7 separate regions of the Homo sapiens genome follow, and all the other regions are reported to be linked to region 6. Evidence: microRNA targets listed by miRTarBase, many of them from high-throughput screens and not tested one by one. Region 6 holds a microRNA gene; each other region holds the end of a gene's coding sequence.
Evidence for each region. Region 6 holds the annotated microRNA hsa-miR-6512-3p (UUCCAGCCCUUCUAAUGGUAGG, at 1,965-1,986, opposite strand). A microRNA usually pairs through its seed, bases 2 to 8, with sites in the 3' UTR of a target mRNA and lowers its output. Matches are read on the target gene's strand: a 7mer-m8 pairs with bases 2 to 8, a 7mer-A1 pairs with bases 2 to 7 and ends in A, and an 8mer does both.

Region 1 (3,000 bases), not on the chromosome of region 6:
GCCAAGTGTACAGAGATCTCTATATTATGTCTTACAATTGCATGTGAATTTACATTACCTCAACAGAAATTCTGACTAAAAAGAATTCAGGGGCCAGGGCTCAGTGGCTCATGCCTGTGATCCCAACACCTTGGGAGGTTGAGGTGGATGGATCTCTTGAGCCCAGGAGTTTGTGACCAACCTGGGAAACATGGAGAAGCCCTATTTCTACAAAGAAATACAAAAATTAGCTGGGAGTGGCAGCACATGCCTGTAGTCCCAGCTACTTGTGAGGCCAAGGTAGGACAATCACCTGAGCCCAGGAAGTAGAGGCTGCAGTGAGCTGTGATTGTGCCACTGCACTCCAGGCTGGGCAATGAAGTGAGACCCTGTCTCAAAACAAAACAAAACCAAAAAAAAGGATTCAAAAAAATACTCAGACTGGAGAAGATGAGGTTTTAGGAATATATTACCCAACTTATTTTGCTTACAATTTCTCTTTTTTTGTATCCACAAGTTATGTGATAAAAATCTTATGTTTAAATACATCTAAAATAGCTCTTCTAATAAGTAAAATTCAAAATAAGAAAGCACCATACTATAATTGATACCGATTTTTCTTTTCTAGTTGTGTGTGTGAAATAACAGGACATCTTACAATTAATGGCAACTTAGATTTGATGATCTATAGCAGGTGTTTGGAATGAGGTTGACTTAACAAGTCTATTTTGGCTCATGATGCCAGCCTTGGCACTAATCATCAAAATATCTCCAATAAATAGTGCAGTATCTTGTGGTGTAACAAGATAAAGGAGTCAGGAAGTATATGGTACTCATCCATGTTTCTGTTTATATATAGGATAACAAATTCAGGAACAATGGGAAAGTAATATATGAAACCTTAATAGGAAATACAATAGAGATTACAAAACACCACCATTTGATTTTTTATGCAAATACTTCAATATTCCAATATTTTTACTCACTTGCTAAATAAAGCACATGACTCGAAATGCTAAATAATTCTGTTAGTCTAAATCTTTTAAAGAATAAAATGTTGGTGAAAAACCAAAATTGTTTAGTAAGGTATGTATGACCTTGTTTATTATCTATCATAGACATCAAGATGATCATAGTTAATACCAATTTAAGCTTTACAGAATACTGTTTTAGGCCCAATATTGATATATTAAATGAAGGTATCAGAGAATCTTGTATTTATGGCATCAGGTTATAAAGATCTATTCAAAACCATTTTTGTCAAAGTTTAAACACTGGAACAAAAGTCAAATTGTTTCTAAATGAGACACAAAATGATTCTTGCTAATAGTACAAATTTTGTCCCATGGGTAATACTATTGTCTTTTTCTTTTTTAAAAAAATTATTTCGATTTTTATTTTAGATTCAGGAAACACATGGGCAGGTTTGTTAGCTGAGTATACTGTGTGATGTTGAGGTTTGGGGTACGTATGATCCTGTCACCCAGGTAGTGAGCACAGTCCCCAGTAGGTAAGTTTTTCAGCTCTTGCTCCCGCTCCCCACCCTACCTCCCCAGTGTCTATTATTCCCATGGGTACTCAGGTATTACTATTTTCAAGTTTTTTTCTTTACATGAAACTACTGAAAGCAAAAGTATGTCATGCTTATAGGTTACTCTGTACATTTATCATTCTATTAATAAACATCTTAAGTAATTAAGTAGTATATTAAGGCCATAAACCAAGTCATTATCTTCTATCAAAGGACTACTGTTATTCAATCATCTAGAAAATTCATTTTAGGCAGGACGCAGTGGCTCACGTCTGTAATCTCAGCACTTTGGGAGGCCGAGGTGGGTGGATCATGAAGTCAGGAGTTGGAGAACATCCTGACCAGCATGGTGAAACCCCGCCTCTACTAAAAATACAAAAATTAGCTGGGCGTGGTGGTGTGTGCCTGTAATCCCAGCTACTCAGGAGGCTGAGGCAGGAGAATCACTTGAACCTGGGAGGCAGAGGTTGCAGTGAGCTGAAATTGCGCCACTGCACTCCAGCCTGGGCAACAGAGAGAAACTCTGTCTTAAAAAAAAAGAAATTCATTTTAATGGGTTACGTTACAGGGTTGAGGTCAGCCTACAGACACAAAATAGGTTAACTGGAATTTTTTTTTTTTCGTATCAGGTTTTAATTTTTTCATTGGAACAGGATTTGGGGGTGGGGATACTAAATGTGGCAGGGTTCAACAAATTTACATTTTATCAAAATAAGGTTCTTAAAGAATACAATGATAGCATATGCTTTAACTCTGGTAGCACAAACCCTCATTAATTGATGGTCACAGAAAAATACTGTAATGCTTTAAACAAAAGTTTTAAATTACATCAATGACACAAGTTTCAAACAAAATGCAGTGATCAAAATACTTAACTGTCCTTTCATCAAGCTTTTACAAACACAATCAGTCTTCGCTGTCTGAGGAAATCAGTTTTAGTTTCTTCATGGTCCTCCATCTGTCTTTTAACATGACACTTGTCCGGTTGTTGAATTTATAATGCAACAGTATTTTAGACCAGTTTCCCTCTCCATATTTCCTCACGCCAGATCTCAAATTCTTGTCTTCTTCCCAAAGCCATGCCTTTTGATAAAAAGTAAAACAGTTATTTACAGAAACAATTATTCAAAAAGAAAATACCTACTATAAATGCCAGTTTTAAAAAATCAAAATAATGCTTAGTTTCTTAAAGACGGAAGACTTCTCTAAACATTTCTTAGATTTTTAAAAGATTTTACATTTATCGTAACATTTTTAGGGGTCATTATTATTACTGTTCATTTTATGTAAGCTCAGCTGCCCAAGATCAGATAGCTAGAAAGTGGCAGTGCTACATGTCAACTGAATTTGTCTGACTTTAAGCCCACACTGTCTCTTAAAATGCTCTTCTACAATTGTTAATAGTTGTATTTATTATCCTCCAAATCTCCAAATAGGCTTTGTGAATGTTTAGTAGTTCACTAATGAACTCAGTGAAAAACCTGTTCTGC
Region 2 (3,289 bases), not on the chromosome of region 6:
CCCCCAGGGATGGTGAGGCTCCTTCTGGAACTGGCCTCACAGCCACACGCGCCCCAAGGCCCAGCCCCTGCAGCCACGTGGACAGCTCTGCCGGCTTCCACTCGCTCCTGTGTGCCCAACGGTTCAGAAATATTATTACTCTGCACTGTTACAGGAACACAGATTTGATGTTTTAATAAAAATACGATTTCTACAAAAGGTGCTTAACACGGCCCAGGACGGGCTGTCCGGTGGAGTCAGCCGTAGGACCCCTGAAGGATTTACAAAGACAGAGCCGGCTCACCAGCACACTCCTGCCAGCACCGGGACCCACTGCGAACAAAGACAGAGCCGGCTCCCCAGCACGCTCCTGCTAGCCCTGGGACCCACTGTGAGCCACTGCGGGGTGTCCTTCATTTAAAAAAAGTCTGGACTGTGACACTGCAGAAGGAGTCTGAAAGCCCAATTCCTGAATCCCTGCGTTAGAACTGAGAGTTCAGGCCGGGCGCGGTGGCTCATGCCTGTAATCCCAGCACTTTGGGAGGCTGAGGCGGGTGGATCACCTGAGGTCAGGAGTTGAAGACCAGCCTGACCAACATGATGAAACCCCATCTCTAATAAAAACTTGCCCGTAATCCCAGCACTTTGGGAGGCCGAGGTGAGTAGATCACGAAGTCAGGAGATCGAGACCATCCTGGCTAACACGGTAAAACACTGTCTCTAATAAAAATACAAAAAAATTAGCCAGGTGTGGTGGCGGGTGCTTGTAGTCCTGGCTACTCGGGAGGCTGAGGCAGGAGAATGGCGTGAACCCAGGAAGCGGAGCTGGCAGTGAGCCGAGATCACGCCATTGCACTCCAGCCTGGGAGACAGAGCAAGACTCTGTCTCAAAAAAAAAAAAAAAAATTAGCTGGGCATGGTGGCGCATGCCTGTAATCCCAATTACTCAGGAGGCTGAGGCAGAAGAATCGCTTGAACCCGGGAGGTGGAGCTTGCAGTGAGCCGAGATCGCACCACTGCACTCCAGCCTGGGTGACAGAGCGAGACTCTGTATCAAAAAAAAAAAAAAAAAAAAAAAAAAGTGAGTGCTTAGCTGGAGTGAGGAGGAAACACTGAATTCCTAAATCAGGAATTCGTTTCATTTTCACCAGGCGCAGATATCCTAGCTCCTGAAAAAGGCCAAGACCGAGGGTCTGGCCCTGGGCAGGTGTAAGAAAGGACTGTTTTAAGAAGCTTATTACACAAAGCTCATATTTCTGGATCCACCACTGCTTACATTTGCACCCAGACACCACTTTTAGGTGCAAGAAGAAAGGTCAGGACATAGAGAAAAATGCACACAGAACGATGAGGGAGAATGACGAGGGAGAATGACGAGGGAGCAAGCCTGCATCAGAGCACGGCTGATGTCACGGAAGCCACCAAAGGCACCCACCAGAGCCTTCCCCACCTGCAAAGCCCCTGCAGCACCCGGAGGGCAAGCTGGCTTTTGGAGGCCATGCGGAGTCCAGGGCAGAGGGGACAGTGGGATGGGCTGCCTGTTGCAGTGGCTGTTCACGTCAACAGTGCTCAGCCAAGGCAGTGAGGACGAGGATGAGAGCCGGGGCAGCTGACTGGGCCCGCGATGCCGCTCACAGGAGAGGCGTCTGCACACACCTGGCAACTGCAAGACTTGTTCTCAAGGGTAAGTACACTTGGACAAACGAACACCAGGCTACTTACACAGGGTGAGAGAATTCATAAATATTAGTTAAGGATCTAAAACAAACTTCTCAAATAACTGAAAGCTGAAAGCCTCTGGAAGCCAACTGTCCCTGCACAAAGGTTTACAATTGAGAAATATCTCCTGTTCCTATTTTGTCAAGTTTCTTTAATGGCTGAACAGAAAGAAGCTTCAAGTAATGGAGAAGGCATTGTCTGAGTGCAGCTGCTTTCCTGGACGCCTGTGCCGTTCCTGTCTTCCAAATCCTATGCTTGGAGGCCCCTGGAGGTACATTTTTGCCAGGAACCAACCTGACCTTAAAAAGATGAGTGTGACACAGCCGGCTGGGCAGGAGGATGGAGGTGCCACAGGACACCACCTGCCCACGCCCTGGCCAGCCTGGCCATGCTGCCGAGTGCGGGGAGGCCACCCCACCCAGAGGGCACAGGGCAAACCCTAAGCACGGGGGTATTGCCCTTGAAGCCCCAGGGGATGCCCTGTGCCGGATCCTCATGCCTCATTGACTAGCCTGCTTGCTGAAGGAGCCCAGGGGCCTGAGCCTGCAACACTGCAAGGGGTGAGAAGGGCATGCTGCTGTGGGCGCACTGGACTCAAACCTCACATTAGAAGCTACAAAGAACCCCAAATGCGCTTCAGAGCCCCACCAACCCCCAAGCCAGGCTCATCCCTGACACAGTGAATCCACTGCAGCCCCCGTGGGAAACTCTGTGCCAATTGACTGCTTAAAGAACTGGGGGAAATAGAAAGCCGAGAAAGAGCTCCGATACACAAGGGAAACCGCACGTGAGAACCAGCACTCCCAGCAGGGAGACGTCACTCTCCAGAGGCCACAGAGATGGCAGACACCTCTGTCTCCACAATGACCCACATCCAACTGAAAGTGTGCAGGAAGACAGGTCTATTGACACTGAAATCTAGAAATCAAGGTCCACAGGCGAATGGAGGCATCTTCAGCCCTGAGGAGGCCAGGCTGTGTCTCCTGACGCCCCTGAGGGTGGGCACAGCAGCCAGCTCTGTGTGGGCGGAGTCCACGTGGTCCTCATTCTCTTCCCTGGGGACAGGGCAGCACAGTCAGATGCTGAGACTGAGGCCACACACATGGGGGCGCCTTCCTGCCTTGGCCCAGCCCAGCTGCCTCTGGAGCCAGGAGGCCGTGGCAGCCACACCACAGTGTGGATCCAGACACGATTCTGTGGAGGGGTTCCGGGATTCCAGACAGACTGAATCTCCGTGGAATGATGAAAATTAAAATTTACTTGATTATGGAAGTCTCTGATTTATTCCAGCCAAAATATTAGATGAGCCACTGAGAATCACCACAAAGCAATCGCCCTCACGGCCCTTGCCAGGGTGACGGCACAGCAGGAGGACAGGTGCCCAGGCCAGTGGTTCTAGCTCTTCACCTCTGCGACCTCCTTCTCTGCCTTCTCTTTGGCCTTCTCCTTCTCCTCCACCTTCTCCTCTTTTTCCAGTGTTGCTACAATCTCAGCCACCTGGCTGGTGGAGATGTGAACATCTTCTTTGTCCACCAGCTCAATCACCTACACACGTGGGAAAGGGAGAGGCTCAGGTGGCTGCGCCCTACAG
Region 3 (3,000 bases), not on the chromosome of region 6:
GTCCGCTGGGAAGAGCTGCCCTCCCTCCAGGAAAGAAAAAGAGAATACAAACAAAAGGCCTTCCCAGTCTATTGCCTCGGAAACACTGACGAAACCTGCAAAACAGAAGGGGGCCGGTGAATCCTCTTCAAGGCCTCAGAAAGCCACGAATAGGAAGCAGAGTAGTGGAAAGACTCGGGCCAGACCCTCAACGAAAACCCCAGAGAGCAGTGCAGCTCAGAGAAAGCGAAAGCTGAAGGCAAAGCTGGACTGTTCGCACAGCAAACGGAGGCGGCTGGATGCAAAGTGATTGGAAAGATGGTAGCCAAGAGTAAAACTGTTCTATAGAAGTAACCTTTTATTTTGCATTAACTAAATCTGCTTTTATAAGCTTATCAAGCCTTTCAAATTTACAGTTAATGGAGAACACCGTAATTTGAGATGTCAGAAAATGCATCTCAGATGGAGAAGGGAACTTGCAGAGTCCTTCTCTGAGGCTAAGGGAAGTTATATATTATATTCTGGTTGTTCCTTGGGTTTTAAACTTGGAACCAAGCAGTTTTCGTTTTTAAAAGTACAGTGCCTTATTTATCCTTTTTGTTTTTAAATTTACAAAAGCTAAAAAGCTGATCTATGTGATTAAAGGCTTGTATTTTATACTTGATGCACAAGCACTTGTACTGTAGCCGAGAAGACCACCATCATGCACATAAAAGGAGCTTTTCAGCAGCCACCCTGCAGCATCTGCCCACGAACAGATGCCCTTCTTTGCAAACCCCAGCAGTGAACTTCCCTCTCTGTCTTGTTTGTTTGTTTAGATGATGTTTGAAAGCTAAACCAAATCATTTTATGGTATGCAGAGGATTTATAATTATAAAAGATTACTATTTCTGTTACCCCCTTTTAAAAAAGATCATGTTCATTGTTGGTCCCTCCTCTCACCTTTGATGTTTTGTCATTTGAGAGCATGTATTCTAAATTATGTGCCCATGGGACAAGAGATATGTCACAAGTGTTAATTTTTGTTTACAAACTCTAAAAAATCATTTGCATCCCCAAACTGTATTACTAATTCTCACCATCTTCTTCATTTCTGGTCTTGCTAGCACTCCTGCAAGGCTTCCATCCTACTTCGGGAGGAAAAAGCCTAGGATTTTTTTTTTCCATCTTGTAGCTGTAATTTGATGATTAGGATGAAAATGACTCTTATTTTCTTTCTTACCCAGAGTACTTCCATATTCAAAGAAAGCCGAACTATTATTTCCAGTAATAGAAAGGTTTAAGAATATGTATGTCCATGTGTGTTTGGGTGCATTTGCATGTGGTTATCAGCCACAAATGTCTCCCAATCCCAATTTTACAGTAAAATTTTTTCCCTATGCAGTGTGCTTGGGTGTCCCTGAGTTGAGTAATTAGCAAAGGACAGATGGTTTAAAAGTAGCCCAGTGTCTCTGTGAGCATCCCCAATACCACTTTGGTACCAGACTCAGAAAGATCTAAAACAGCATGGAGTTATGTAAAGGTTAGAGCAGCCTTGCAGTTGGAGGAAGCAGCTCCAGCATCTGTGAAGAGCCCACACACCCCCTACACCCAGAGCTGATGTTCAGCTGTATGCTCCAATGTGAATGTACTTGTTGGAGTAGACGTTCATTCTGATTGATTAACACCATCCTAGTAGTTAAATGCTTGTAGTATCACTCCTGCCATGTCATGTCAGGCTCTATTCCGTGTCTCAGAAGTGAGAGCCACAATGTTTTAATGACTTTGTTTGCCTTTCCCAGGTGAAGCCTGAGACAGGCGCATTGGCTTCAACCTAGTGCCTGTGACCTTGCTCCATTATTATAGTGCAGCGTGTACTTGACTTTTCCATTGGGCCGCTCTACAAAAAAAGGCTTGGTTGTTGAAGCCTCAGTCAGCTTCCTTAACCGGTTCTGTCACCAAAATCAGCTTGTATGGACAGCTGCTGCCCTGTCCTTTTTATTTGAAAATTTTCCATTTAGGTTGTTTCAGATCTCTTTAGATAAGCCCAGATGGACTTTTTTCATGCAAATCATGATAATACAGGCCTTCTACCCATTCTGTTAAAGGTTTGCTGTATATCATGGGAACTTCTGATGATTGGATAAGACTGGAGAAAAGTATTTGATTTGTGAGAAATTTAGAATTGTGTTGAATTTCATAGCTAGAGAAGCTTGCTGTCTTATGAAGCCCTGATTTTTTTTCATGTCTTCTCTATCTGATGAGTCTTTTTCTTTTTAGTATCTTTGACTTTGGCCATTCAAGAGCTACCTACATTAATAAAACTGCTGAGTGTGTATGTTGGCAACCCTTTCTCAGCATTAAGTTGCACAGAGGCATTAATGTGTTTTGAATAGGTTCATTTAATCTTAAAAAATGGTTTTAAGGTTTTAAAAATGTCTTTTCATATAGTTGTCACTGGATATTGTGTTTGTGGTGACTTAAACAGCTGATGTTTGCCAATGTCAGGCATGCTGATTCCTGTACAGAAGAGGTGCCCCGTTGGCTGCATACCGACTACCTTGTAAGGTGCTTGGATTAGGTTAGGGAGAGGTGTAAGGTAGTAAGTGGGTGGAACTTTTCCAGTTCCAAGTTTGTAATTCATTCCATTCCTTTTCTAAGTTCTTTTTCATTTTTAAAAGCTCAGTTAAAGATAATAGCCTTCTTTCCCATTCTAGGCTGTGTGTGAGAAAAGGTGTTAATGTGTATGTATGTATTTTATATACCTAACAATGCAATGGATCATCTTTAAAATCAACTTATACTTTATAATAAGGACATTTAAATAGACCAAGAGTCTACATAATTATGACACTTAAAAGTTTAGAATTTTTTATATTTGTTGAATCTCATTTTTGCTGATTCAGTTAATTTTGTTAATAGAAGAAAGAAAACAGCAAAACTTGAGGGCTAATCCTGCAAGGCCCTTTGATACCTACAGCAGGTACTGGCAAAGCAGTTTCCCAGATACCTCCAAGCTCAGGTGTGGTATTGACTCAAGTC
Region 4 (3,333 bases), not on the chromosome of region 6:
CTATGAGAGCAACCCCGTGAGGCAAAGACGACCTCCCCTGTGCCGGGAACAGCATGCCAGCTGGGACCCGCTGCCCTGTACAACTGACTCCTATGGCTACCACTCCTATCCCTTGAGTAACAGCCTCATGCAACCATGTTATGAGCCAGTCATGGTACGGAGCGTGCCTGAAAAGATGGAGCAGCTTTGGAGGAATCCTTGGGTTGGAATGTGCAATGATTCCAGGGAGCATATGATCCCAGAACACCAGTATCAGACCTACAAGAACCTCTGCAATATTTTCCCTTCTAACATCGTCCTTGCAGTGATGGAGAAGAATCCCCACACAGCAGATGCCCAGCAACTGGCAGCCTTGATTGTTGCTAAGCTTAGGGCTGCACGTTGATATGACATAGTACTTATTTCTTTATACAAATATGAATATTAATACTAATAATACACTAATACAATAATTATAGTAACTAATAATTTGTGTTGCGCTTTACAAGTTAGAGTGTTTATATCATTTAAGCGCTTAACAACCCTGTGAGGTACGTCTTACTAACATCCTCTTTTATAGAGAAGGAAGGTGAAGGTCAGTGAAATTAAGTGGCTAGCCAGGGTCACACTGCTAGCAAATGACTAAGTCAAGACACACACCCAAGTCCTCTAAATCCAAGTCCCATGCCCCTTTGCACTGCACCATGCAGGTAATGGAGGACAAAACCCAGGGGGAGAGGTCTAGATGTAAGAAATCCCAGAGGATTCCATTACCAGAGTTTTCCTTTTTCTCTTTTCGTTTCTTTCTTTCTTTCTTTATTTTTTTTTTTTGAGACAGAATCTCACTCTGTTACACAGGCTGGAGTGCAGTGGCACTATCTCTGCTCACTGCAACCTCCACCTCCAGGGTTCAAGTGATTCTATGGCCTCAGCCTCCCAGGTAGCTGGGATTACAGGCGTGCACCACCATGCCCAGCTAATTTTTGTATTTTTAGTAGAGACGTGGTTTCACCGTGTTGGCCAGGCTGGTCTCAAACTCCTGGCCTCAAGTGATCCGCCCACCTTGGCCTCCTAAAGTGCTGGGATTACAGGTGTGAGCCACTGCGCCCAGCCTACCAGAGTTTTCGTAGTCACATATTCTATATTACAAAGTATGGATGATATATCCAATTTAGAGAGCAAAAGCATCAGGATCAGATCATATGTTGAATTAACCTTTTAGGTTTTTTCTAATAGAAATATTTAAAGCTATTTAAAAGTAAATGCATACTTTATTGCATGGATATCTGATCACTCAATCTATATTAATGAAACTATAGGGTCACATTGAAGCTTCTAGAACTATATTTTAAAGCTATTATTAGCAATTATATTGCATGTATGAATATATATATTTGGTTTGAGATGTGTGTGTATCTCTGTATAACCTTTTATATAGTGATAATGAGAGGGTAGGCTCTACACAGTCCTTCGTCTATAGCTGTATAGGTCACTAATCTGACTTGATGATTTTAAGTCACATTTCATAGTTTTAACTAGTTATGAGAGAGAAATTATATGGCAATATTTGAACATTGCTTTCTTAGGCACCAGAGCAAAGCAACTCTGTTTCCTTTGCACATTTTACCTGCCAACATTTATTAACAGTTCTTACCTTCCAAGTCTCTTCACCTTAGCAAATTAGGGATCAGGTTGCAGTCTTCTGCAGAGAAACTGATGGTTAAGCTCAAGTTCCAAGCATAGTATGTGTGTGCTACACAAGCTCAGAAGAGTTTGACAAGGACCAGGGGACTTACTACCACAATCCACTTCCCTTATCCCAGGAGAGATGGCCAAACCCATGTGGCATTAAATGGTGAATAAAAAAGCTTCACTCAAGGAGGGACTATTGGATGCTCTTTGGACTTCTGACCTATGCAGTATTCAACATCATTGGATGAAATGTAATGGAGGACAGTGCACAGCCATGTATCCACTTTCTCTTCCTGTCCACCCTTTGGGTAATAAGGTCAATCATTGGTGGAACAGAATTTCTCTAGGAAACAAAACCAGGGGATTTTATTTGTGGAAAAAGGAAGTTTCCAAAAGGGGATACTGCATCTTTACTAATAGCTGGCTCAGTTACTCACTTTAAATCCATGCAAAGAGTGCACTTGCTGTTAAATAATTGTTAAATGAGTTATTAGAAGGCAGGACTTTTGGTTTGGGCGACACCATTTGCGCAACTTGTATCTTGCTCAGGGTGGAAAACTTCATAGCTAAATGCCTCTAGAAGAGGTGTTTATTGTTTTTTTTAAGCTGCACTAAATGAATTCCCTTTTTGAATCCATTGTATATTTCAATATTTCGAACCATGATCAGCTCACTATTTCCTGAGCTGGAACTTGCTAACTTCTATGATCGTTTTTTCATGAAAGTTGAGAAGGCCGGGCCTTGGCCTTTTGTTTCTTCATGAGAAGGTGTGACACTGCCTATAAATGTTTCTTACTGTGAAACACTCTGAATGTGAGGCTGTAGTCAGGGTTGTTTCTGGTGGTTTGACAATGGCTTGCATGCTGCTTTCTGGCTTTCTGTCTCTGTCCAAGTTGATCAATACTGCATCTTAACCAATGTTTCACTTGAGTTAACCACAGCTTTACATTCTATCTCCTATCTTCTGATCTTCGTATACCCCAGCATATTGAAAAAGAGTAAAAGTATTTTCTATCAATCAGGTAGATCCACAGAGTGACAGTTGCCACTGCAGTGCTTGCTATTTCACACAAACACCATTTCATACCTTCAACTTCTTGGACTTTCTAAATCGGACTCGTGTCTAAATCAGGGTATTTGACAATCTCAGATGATGCTACTGCCTATGTGCCAGTTAGTTCATCTTCCTACCAAGATCATGAATGGCACCACACTATCCACTAGCTGTACAATTTACAGAGAAGCACAAGATTCATCTTGTCACCTACAATTCGTCTTGAACATGTTCATATTTAGTACTCAGAAACTGTGTAAGCTCCTCCCAATACAGAAAATATTTTTTAAGGCAGCATATGTATTTCTGATTTACTAAAAACGATTGTCATTCTCCTCTCATTCTTCTTTTTGGTATGAACCAAAAGCGGCTAGGAGCAATGCCTCAAATAACCAGAAATGACCTTTTGTTGATACAAATTGTATCTCTTTTTTTCCTGATTGTATAGAAACAAATGTACAAAACTCATCTGAAGCTAGGTTTGGCACTGAATTTTCACCATGAGGTTTGTGGCACTGTGTGTCACAGGGAAGTAGCTCAGGGGTTGTGAGGGAGCTTTTATTTCTAAAGGGCAGTAGTAATTTATAGACAAAAACAATTTTTCAAGG
Region 5 (3,333 bases), not on the chromosome of region 6:
CTCCCCCGAGGGAAACCCGAGGCCCAGAGGGGCCGAGGGAGCCCGTCACGAAAACTCCAGAAGTTCCTAAGCAGGGACCTGAACCAAAGGTCTCTGCCCACGGCGCGGGATGTAGTGCCGCCGCTCCACTTGAGAAAGGGGTCCCCACACGGGAGTAGGGCGAGGGGGTCGCCTCCCGCCGCCGAAACCAGTCCCTCCCTGAGTCGCCAAGTCCCGAGTCCCGCCCTCTCCCCGCAGGGCTCCCGGAGAGGACCTCCGCCTTCTCGCTTCGCCCCTCCGCCTCGCTCAGGAGGAGACCTGCCACGGCCCTGTCTGACCTGTCGCCGCTGGGACTGAGCCGGCAGCGCGAAGCCTCCATGCCCGCCACCGAGGAAGCCCCCACCACGTACACACTCTTCCCCGCCGTCGCTAGAGTGGCTAGGCTGGCACGCCGCCGCGTCCCGCCTCCTGGCAACCGCGTTCCACACTGTCGCCGCCGCCGATTGGTCCGTGTTCTCGTGGCTCCTGTCTCATTGGCTATTGCCGGGGCCCAACGATGCGGGAGGGTTGCTAAGGGGCGGGAGGCGAGCGGGAGTTAAACGCGCCTGCGCGGGGGTGGGGTGACGCGAGCTAAGGCTTGGTCCTCTGGAGCGCCTCGCGGGGCCGGTACTGAGCGGGAAGACTTTGTTTTTGCCTGGGCCTCGCCCGCCGCGCGGCCAGCAGGCGAGTCCGGTCAGAGGAGTCTCCTATACCGCACCAACCGCCACGCACGCAACGGCTCCTCGCACCCCCGCCATTTTTACCGAGCCCACCCAGAGCGCTTCCCGAGGTCTGCCCTGTGAGGATGTACAGACCTCTGCCGCTTCCCATTCTGGCCCCTGCCCTGATACCAGCGGCCTTCGTGGACCCCCTCTGGTACCCTCTCCACTCCATCAGTCACTCCCAGTGAAACGCATCTTCCATAGGCTGGCCTTGAACTTCAACTGCACAGAACTTAAGCTTCCCCTACTCCAGCCCAAGCTTTTAGGTCATTCCTAGACCTGCTCTACAGACTCCCCTAAAGCACACGAGGGAATCCAGAGACTTTAATTTTTTGAGACAGGGTTTCTCTCTCGCCCAGACTGCAGTGCAGTGGCCCGGTCTCAGCTCACCGCAACCTCCGCCTCCCAGGCTCAAGCGATTCTCCTGCCTCAGCCTGTGGAGTAGCTGGGATTACAGGCAGGGGCCACTACTGCCTGGCTATTTTTCGTATTTTTAGTAGAGATAGGGTTTCACCATGTTGGCCAGACTGGCCTCTTAACTCCCGACCTCAAATGATCCACCCGCCTCAGCCTCCGAAAGTGCTGGGATTACAGGCGTGGGCCCGTCCTGGAGACTCTTTCCATCTACCTTTCTACCTCCTGTGGGCCTTCCTCAAACATCCATAGCCCACCGTGAGAGCCCCTGTCTAAATGTGTACTCTTGTCTCCAATAAATCCCGTCCCCAAATGTCAGTCCCTTTCTCCCTACCGACATGCACATTATAGTCCCTACAAAACATCCTGAGTCCTGACAAGTCACTGCACAAATGGCTTTATGGCGTTCTAAGGTCAAAGTTGTTTCCACATTGGTTTTGAACCTACAAGTTAGTACTTTAGGAGGCACACGCTGAGAGTGGACCGTTACACTGCCTGGGTCAGCGTGCACTCACTGTGTGACCTGTGCATGGTTCATTCTCTGCATCAAACTCCCATCTGTAAAATATACAGTAATCCCTGCTTGATCTAGTTGGGGCTGGACCTGACACAGTAGGTCCAGCTGAATGAATGCTAAATGAATGGGTTTAATGAGATGCTACTTGTCTGAGTAAAAGGCCGAGACATTCGGTTGACTGGGGAAGTCCTTCTGCATTAATTACAATAAGTAATACTCATTGAAAACTTTCCTTATTTACACACAGTTGAACAGTTATTCTAAGAAACCATTTTCCCACCCTATTTAATATTGACAGATTTCTTCAGTTAGAAACAAAAACTCAAAACACACGCAATCCTAAAGAACTCATCTATGTCCCCCTTATCTCCCCTCATCTTATGTAGTCCCTAAAACAGGGCTTGCTGCCCTTTCTTCTTCTTGCCTTTTCAGCAGATGAGTCAAGGTTGCAGAGGTGGCAGTCAACCATAGAGTCACAGAGTTTGATTTTTTTCCATCCATCAGGTCGTAGAAGCTGCCACTGAGCCTGACAAGAGTTGGTACTCAAAAATGCAGAATGAATTAGTTTGAATGAGGTGATTAAGGATTAATGAGTAGTGGTTAAGGAAACAAAGACCATTAGTGGATGGGGTAATATTGCTGTATTACTGATGGAAGCAGGATTCTCTAAAAAAACTTTCTGCAGCCATTTACTTACATACATTTTAAAGAGTTACTACAAGATATTTTAAAAATTTAAACAGTTAATACAAGAAAAATATGAAGTGAATAGTTCATGACACTAAACTGAACTGTTCATGACACAAAGTATCTTAGAAAACAAATCTCGGCTGGGCCAGCACTTTGTGAGGTCAAGGCCAGCAGATGACTTGAGGTCAGGATTTTGAGACCAGCCTGGCCAACATGGAGAAACCACATCTCTACTAAAAATACAAAAAAATTAGCCAGGCATGGTGGCTGGTGCCTGTAATCCCAGCTACTGGGGAGGCTGAGGCAGGAGAATCGCTTGAACCCAGGAAGTGGTGGTTGCAGTAAGGTGAGATCATACCACTGCACTCCAGCCTGGGCAACAGAGCAATATTACATCTCAAAAACAAAAACAAAAACCCTAGGAATTGAATTCCTTTATGACTCCAGAAAACATATCTCTTTTCTATTGAGATTACTGATGGCAGTCAGCTTTTCACAAGGAATTGGCTTCTGCTCAGCTTCCCTCTCTCCCTGAGGTAAGCAAGCAGGTGCTGTCGTCTCCTCCATGTGACCTTTATTCCATACTTGTCCTCGGGGGTGTCTTTAACCAGAACAGGTCCAGGCTCTGGGCTATTAGGAGTGCCAGTGTGAAGAGTGCAGCTTAGAAGGCTGTTTTCCTTCTGATCTTGGGGAATGAGTTCTTCCTTCACAGACGATGACTCTGGGGTCTGGATATCAGGTGGAATGAACACATAAGGTAAGCTCTGAAGTGCCTGCACTGACATGTTCCCACAGCTTTGGGGACTGAGCACTGGAACTAAGGGTCTTCTGGAAACATCCTTTTCTGATTCACTGGGGCACTCTCGGATTAAGGGGATCCCCAATGTCTCTGAACTGGAAGATTGCGGACTCTCAAAAGTTAGATGTGGAAACTTGGAGGTGGTAGGTTTTCGACTTGAGTGTCTCGCCCGG
Region 6 (3,305 bases):
AAGGAAAACATCTGATAAACTAAACTAATTCAAAATTATGAATGTCTTCTTCAAAATACACTATTAAAAGAGTGAATAAAATAAGCCACAGAGTGGGCTGGGCACAGTGGCTCACGCCTGTAATCCCAGCACTTTGGGAGGCCGAAGCAGGCAGATCACAAGGTCAGGAGATTGAGACCATCCTGGCTCACATGGTGAAACCCCGTCTCTACTAAAAATACAAAAAATTAGCTGGGCATGGTGGCGGGCACCTGTAGTCCCAGCTACTTGGGAGGCTGAGGCAGGAGAATGGCGTGAACCCGGGAGGAGGAGCTTGCAGTGAGCCGAGATCACGCCACTGCACTCCAGCCTGGGTGACAGAGCAAGACTCCATCTCAAAAAAAAAAAACAAAAAACAAAAAGCCACATAGTGGCAAAAGATATTATCAATACATATACCCGACAAAGGACTCATATCCAGAATAAAGGACTATAAAAACAAGAAAAGGCAGACAAGCCCATAGAAAATCACACAAAACACATGAATAGGCATTTCACAGAAGAGGGTACCCAAATGGCCAATAAACAATTAAAAAGGTGTTTATTTGATATCAGAAAAATGAAAACAACAATGAGATTCAATACACTGCATTAGTCTTTGAAGAGAATGGCTAAAATTTAAAAGATGGAAAAGATCAAGTTTTGATGAAGATGTGAAAAACTGTTGGGCAGTACTACTCAAGCTGAACCCCATGCATCAGAGAAATTACACTTTTATATATCCAACTGAAATATGTGTGTGTGTGTGTGTTCACCAATGTTCACAGTGGCACTAGTTGCAGTAATCTCAAATTGGAAACAACCCAAATGTCCATCTTTGGTAGAACGTATAAATTGTGTTATATTCATACAATGGAATACTACACAGCAATGAAAATGAAGATACTATTATTACTCTCAACATGAATGAATCTCACAAATAGTTGAGTAGGAAAAGCCAGTAATAAAATAATACACACTGTATCATTCCATTTTGTCTAATGTTTAAAAATAGGCCAAATTGGTCTAGGGTATTAGAAGCCAAGATTACAGTCAATTTGAGGGAGGATAATGCCTAGAAAAGATAATGAAGGGAGCTTCTGGTATGGTAGTAGTTTCTGCCTCCCAATCTGGGTGCTAGCAATATGTAGGTGTGTTTACTTTATGAAAATTCATCAAGCTCTCTGATTATAATTTGTGCATTTTTCTGTCTGTATGCTATACTTCAATAAAGATAGATTTATACTGAGTTAGGAACAAAGCTCAATAACTATAATTCTAGGCTGAGCTGCTAATAGGATTTGTTAAACAATTTAAACTGTGCCAGTCAGATATAATGATGCGAAATTAGAAAGGTAAAAGGAAGAGAGAGGCTATTTCCCCTGCCTATTAGTTTTCCTTCCTTCCTTCCTTCCTCCCTTTTCTTTCTCTTCTTTCTCCTTCCTTCTTTCTCTTTCTCCTTCCTTCCTTCCTTCCTTTTCTTTCTCTTCTCCTTCCTTCCTTCCTTCCTCTTCTTTCCCTTCCTTCCTTTCTCTCTCTCTCTTTTTACCTTCCTCCTTCCCTCCCTCCTTCTCTCTCTCTATTTATTTATTTTTTGAGAAAGATTCTTGTTCTGTCCAGGCTGGAGTACAGTGGCACAATCACAACTCACTGCAGCCTAGACCTCCTGGGCTCAAGGATCCTCCCACCTCAGTGTCCCAAATGTTTGGGACTTCAGGCATGCACCAACATGCCTGGCTGCCTATTAGTTTTCACTGGTAGTTGTTGATGTACGTGCAACATTAAATGTGGTTTTTAATGACCAGACTTTCTGTGCCTCTGCATTGCCACTAACTTCATCTGTGAGAAATGACTGTGATGCCAGCAGTGGACTTTATAGCTTCCTGACCTCTAGATTGTAGCTGTGTGGACTGAACTGCGAGCCCAACAGCATCCCTCTTAATGCTCCTACCATTAGAAGGGCTGGAAGAAGGCATCTCCCTCAGCCTTCTTCCAGCTCTTCTAATGGTAAGAGCATATAATTTTTAAGCATATAATTCTTAGCATTCAGTACCTAGAGAAGTGTCTGCACTGAACCCCAACTGATATATCAGTTAATAACACAACTGATAGGTTATCTAGTAGGTTTATGGTTGGTTGTAAGAATCTTTGGGAAAGAAAATTACCATTGGCAATCCTACCACCTAGGATCATCATTATCATGGGAAAGTTCTGCTTTAGAGGCAACCTAAATCTATTTTGAGGTCCTGAAAATGCATTTACTTCACAGGATATGCTGGTTTCTGCTGCCATTCAAAAATTATTCTTAAGGCATTCTTTGTTCTCTTTTCACTAGCTAAATAATGCCGTGCTTTTAACTTTTCTTTATGTGTTCAGCAGCTTTTCCCAGTTGTGGATATTTGAAAAAAGTATTCATATAAATACTGCCTGTTCTGGTAGGATTAGCTGTCCCTTTCTTTTGGTTATATTCCCAAGTTCATTCTTGCTTATCTAACCAAAGCCCTACATTGCTGACTCAAGTTTAGTTTATGGTCCAAGCCCAGTATCATGTTACTATTAGCCAAGATTTCCCATGGGTTGAGGCAGACTTGTAGAAGATTGAAAAATAAAACTTACTGGCCATAAGTAAGACTTTTTATCTGGCCTTCCAGTACAGAACATTCTCTAATATAGCAGCTTATAAACAATGAGAATCAGAAGCCTAAAAAAATTAGTTAATAGCCAAACAGTGACTGAATCATGGAATTGTACAGTTAGAATGGACCTTAGAAGCAGTCTATATAAGCCAGGTATAGTGGCTCATGCCTGTAATCTCAGCACTTTGGGAGGCCAAGGCAGGAGGATCTCTTGAGCCCTGGAGTTTGAGACCAGCCTGGCCAAAATGGTGAGACCCCATCTCTACTAATTTTTTTAAAAAGTCTATATACATACCAGAACACAGAGCTCAGATATGTATGCAGGATTCCAGTCCGTGCTGAATACTCTTCCAGTATGAGTACTCTTCCTACTCCTCAAGGTGTGTGGCCCTCAAAGCAGCAGCATCAGCACTTACCTGGGAGCTTGTTAGAAAGCCAGAATCTCAGGCTCCAACACCCACTGAAGCAGAATTTGCATGTAACACCCCCACCCCTTCTTGATTTGTATGCATGTTGAAATTTGTGGAGTTAGAGACAAAAGCACCACAGGTGCATGTCTTACTATTTAAAGTCTTGCCTAATTATATAACATAGAAACCTGATCCCTTCTGGACAAGGCCTGTATTATTACAGGTCCTGGTCTAATAGAGT
Region 7 (3,333 bases), not on the chromosome of region 6:
TCTATTTTCTTCCTTCCCTTCTTTAGAATCCTGGCCCTCTTATACCTCAGCCTTCGAGTCAACAGACTCCTGAGAGGAAACCCCGCTTATCTGAACACTGCCGGCTCTACTTTGGGGCGCTCTTCAAAGCCATCAGCGCATTTCACGGCAGCCTCAGCAGCAGCCAGCCCGCGGAGATCATCACTCAGAGCAAGCTGGTCATCATGGTGGGACAGAAGCTGGTGGACACGCTGTGCATGGAGACCCAGGAGAGGGACGTGCGCAACGAGATCCTCCGTGGCAGCAGTCACCTCTGCAGCCTGCTCAAGGACGTAGCGCTGGCCACTAAGAATGCCGTGCTCACGTACCCCAGCCCTGCCGCGCTGGGGCACCTCCAGGCGGAGGCTGAGAAGCTGGAGCAACACACGCGGCAGTTCAGAGGGACACTGGGATGAGGACTGTCTACCTCCCTTCCTCCTCTGCTCACCTCTCAGCTTCACACCCACAACTTGTGCAACTCTGCCCTATGGGAAAAGCCAGCCGGGGCATACACCAATGAGCTGAAACAGACCTGGTGCCCAAAGCTGGTAGTACCAAGTGGCTAAGCAACCCCAGGGCATTGACTTACCCCGCAGGGGGTCAGGAAAGAGAGTCAGGTATGAGGTAAAGACCTTGTGAAGTTTAGCATATATGGAGTATGCAGTATCAGCTTGAAGTGACTTCGCAGAAATAATATTTTATATTGATTAAATGTGTGCATGTTTTGTTTGTTTTTTGAGACAAAGTCTCACTCTGTCACACAGGCTGGAGTGCAGTGGCGCGATCTCAGCTCACTGCAACCTCCGCCTTCTGGGTTGAAGCAATTCTCCCGCCTCAGCCTCCAGAGTAGCTGGTACTACAGGTGTGCGCCACCATGCCCAGCTAATTTTTGTATTTTTTTTTAATGAAAGGTCTCACATATTTATTACTGAACCCAGCCAACCAATGCATTCATAACAGATTCAGAAAGAAAAAATATATTCCCAATAAAACATGTACAATTCTCCAGAGAGCGGTGACATTTTCAGCTTGATGTGGTAACATGACTGTGACCTTCAGACAGCATAAATATGTGTGCCCTCTCATGTGCAATTCCTTATAGGGCTAGCTTGGTTCTTCTTCAATGTCTCCTTTTGGAGTTGTACCTGATTTTATTACCAGTTTTCATCTGAATCCACTGGGGAGTGGGGCGATTTTGTTTTAATTTCTCGGTCAGGAATCACTTAATCCTGGAAGTCTTATGAGAAGACATGGCAAGAAGCAGAGTCAAGCACACACCACAATGGCAGAGAAAGGAAGAGCTAATTTTTGTATTTTTAGTAGAGTCGGGGTTTCACCATATTAGCCAGGCTGGTCTGGAACTCCTGACCTCAGGCCATCCCCCGCCTCGGCCTCCCAAAGTGCTGGGATTACAGGCCTGAGCCACCATTCCTGGCATGTACGTGTTTTAAATTCACTCATTTAACACTTATGTATTGGATGCCTACTACATGCCAAGTTCTAGGTGCTGGAGACATAGCAGTGTTTCAGAGGGCTTGCCCTCTTGGAACTTATGATCTAGTAGGGGAGTCAGGCAGTAAAGCGGTGAAGAAATACATACACAGTATAGCAGGTGCCAGGAAAAACGTAAGTAGGGGAAGTGCAAGAGAACTTATCTTCAAATGGTTAATTTTTATTGCATCCATTAGATAATAGAGTAAGTTTTTTGTTGTTTTGAATTGAATTAGTTCTGTGAGATTGGTACAAATTATGTATGTGTCTTGCACCCATAAATATATATTTTTGCTATGTTACTTTAACCTAAAGATAGATGTTATATTTACAACATAACATGATCTGTTGGGTTCTCTATTAATTTATTTCATACATTATAGATTCTGGGTTGATAAATTCTGCTCAATTTGAAAAATTTTATATTTTGTCTCAAATCTGTTACAATTTATATTGGTTGGTGCAAAAGTAATTGCGGTTTTTGCCGTAGACAGTAATGGCAAAAACCACAATTGCTTTTGCACCACCCTAATAATATTAAATATAATCATGACTTTAAACATCATTTGCAGCATTCTTTTTTTGGAAAAGTCTTTGATCTGTGTCACCCAAGTGAAGCCTCCGATGTTTACTTTTGTCACTCCAGTGCTTCTCCCTGAAGTCTGCAGAGAGATGGAGTAGAGGCCCTGCTCTTAGGCACCGGATTGGTGCTGGAAAACAAAGCCATCACCTGTGGTGGTGCAGACAGGAAGGCGTGGTGTGGACAGGATGCCCATCATTGGGCACAGATATGAAAGTGGCACAGAGCTCCCCTCAACTCAAACCACCTCCTCTTCCTCTCCTTGTAGCTGAGTCCTCAGCTCACGTTGCCATGGTTACATCATCACTTCATTTTAAGTGATGGTCTGGGCCTCCTAAATGCATAAACACCTCTACAGCTTGGAAGAGCATCTCCAGGCTGTAAGTCACCTGAAATGATACCAAGTCCAACTCCTATCTGCTACTCTTTCCTTGGTAGGCACTTGTAAAATGTTGACTGCTGGAGGCTGGTTATTTTTATTAAGTTAGTCTCAGGGTCCTTAAAAAAAGGATCCCATCTTTGTGAGGCTTGGTTCTCTACAACTGGACAGAGGCCCTCCAGGGGGCCTATTCTTTGAACAGCCATGATCTGCATCAGTTAGGACTTCTCTTACAAGGGATAGAAAATCATACCCAATCTGTCTTAAGCAGTAAAGGAAATTTATTAACTCATATGTCTTAAAATCATCCAGAGGCAAACTAGCCGCAAGGCTGGCTGGTTTCAGGGGCTCCAACAGTGTGATCCAGGACCAGTTTCTCGGTCCCACTTGCTCTGGGTTAACCCCCATGATTGCAAGGTGGTTTTCCCAGGTTACACTCTTCTTGATTCTTGGCCAGAGGAGAAGAAAAGGACTTCATTCGGCTTGGACTGGCTTAGATCAGGTGCTGCTCCTGAAAGCTCCATGATAAGCAGGGCATGGAACACCCAAGTTAATTTAGATCTGGAATTCCTACCCACCCCACACTCACTCTCCCATGGGTCCTGAGAGGTAACGGGATTGCTCTTTCAAGCACTGTGATGGGCCTGAGGTTTCATCTTTGAAATTAACAAGTTAACCTGTCACCATTTCATGGATGCAGACAGAAGATCTAAGATTCTGGGATCAGAGACTATGTCAGTGGTCCCCAAGACCACCTCCAGGTCCAATGAGTCACTAGGAAAATTCACAGGACTCAGAATACAGTCATATTCACAGCTGTGACTTACTACATTGAACAGATGCAAAGTGAGATCAGCAAGGGGAA

Region 1: the mRNA of TERF1 is a reported target of hsa-miR-6512-3p. Seed matches in the 3' UTR shown: 7mer-m8 at 2,008-2,014.
Region 2: miRTarBase lists LETM1 as a target of hsa-miR-6512-3p. Seed matches in the 3' UTR shown: 8mer at 2,983-2,990, 7mer-m8 at 1,002-1,008 and 7mer-m8 at 836-842.
Region 3: the mRNA of LCOR is a reported target of hsa-miR-6512-3p. The part of its 3' UTR that is shown has no 7-base or 8-base seed match.
Region 4: miRTarBase lists ZC3H12B as a target of hsa-miR-6512-3p. Seed matches in the 3' UTR shown: 7mer-m8 at 837-843 and 7mer-A1 at 2,356-2,362.
Region 5: miRTarBase lists RHNO1 as a target of hsa-miR-6512-3p. Seed matches in the 3' UTR shown: 7mer-m8 at 2,728-2,734.
Region 7: miRTarBase lists CASS4 as a target of hsa-miR-6512-3p. Seed matches in the 3' UTR shown: 7mer-m8 at 782-788.

Annotation. Positions count from the first base shown.
Region 1 is chr8:73,045,554-73,048,553 of GRCh38, reverse strand. TERF1 (telomeric repeat binding factor 1) reads right to left here. Exons shown (of 10, transcript NM_017489.3): 10 at 431-2,593. The coding sequence ends at 2,417. Among named protein-coding and RNA genes, the nearest start is that of TERF1, 38 kb to the right of the region's middle.
Region 2 is chr4:1,811,331-1,814,619 of GRCh38, forward strand. It overlaps LETM1 (leucine zipper and EF-hand containing transmembrane protein 1), which reads right to left. Exons shown (of 14, transcript NM_012318.3): 14 at 149-3,243. The coding sequence ends at 3,094. Among named protein-coding and RNA genes, the nearest start is that of FGFR3, 20 kb to the left of the region's middle.
Region 3 is chr10:96,984,846-96,987,845 of GRCh38, forward strand. LCOR (ligand dependent nuclear receptor corepressor) reads left to right here. Exons shown (of 8, transcript NM_001346516.2): 8 at 1-3,000. The coding sequence ends at 289. Among named protein-coding and RNA genes, the nearest start is that of SLIT1-AS1, 120 kb to the right of the region's middle. RefSeq lists enhancers at 1-400, 1-96.
Region 4 is chrX:65,502,825-65,506,157 of GRCh38, forward strand. It overlaps ZC3H12B (zinc finger CCCH-type containing 12B), which reads left to right. Exons shown (of 10, transcript NM_001010888.4): 10 at 1-3,333. The coding sequence ends at 385. Among named protein-coding and RNA genes, the nearest start is that of LAS1L, 30 kb to the right of the region's middle. RefSeq lists an enhancer at 1-489.
Region 5 is chr12:2,887,973-2,891,305 of GRCh38, reverse strand. RHNO1 (RAD9-HUS1-RAD1 interacting nuclear orphan 1) reads right to left here. Exons shown (of 3, transcript NM_001252499.3): 3 at 1,782-3,333. The coding sequence ends at 2,847. It overlaps TULP3 (TUB like protein 3), which reads right to left and starts at 415. Exons shown (of 11, transcript NM_003324.5): 1 at 318-415. The coding sequence starts at 358. RefSeq lists a silencer at 520-569 and an enhancer at 840-1,019.
Region 6 is chr2:177,311,847-177,315,151 of GRCh38, forward strand. It overlaps MIR6512 (microRNA 6512), which reads right to left and starts at 2,036; the gene lies at 1,960-2,036. All of the region lies in intron 6 of LOC100130691 (Putative uncharacterized protein FLJ44553), which reads right to left.
Region 7 is chr20:56,458,314-56,461,646 of GRCh38, forward strand. CASS4 (Cas scaffold protein family member 4) reads left to right here. Exons shown (of 6, transcript NM_020356.4): 6 at 27-2,069. The coding sequence ends at 434. It also overlaps the pseudogene RPL39P. Among named protein-coding and RNA genes, the nearest start is that of RTF2, 8.6 kb to the right of the region's middle.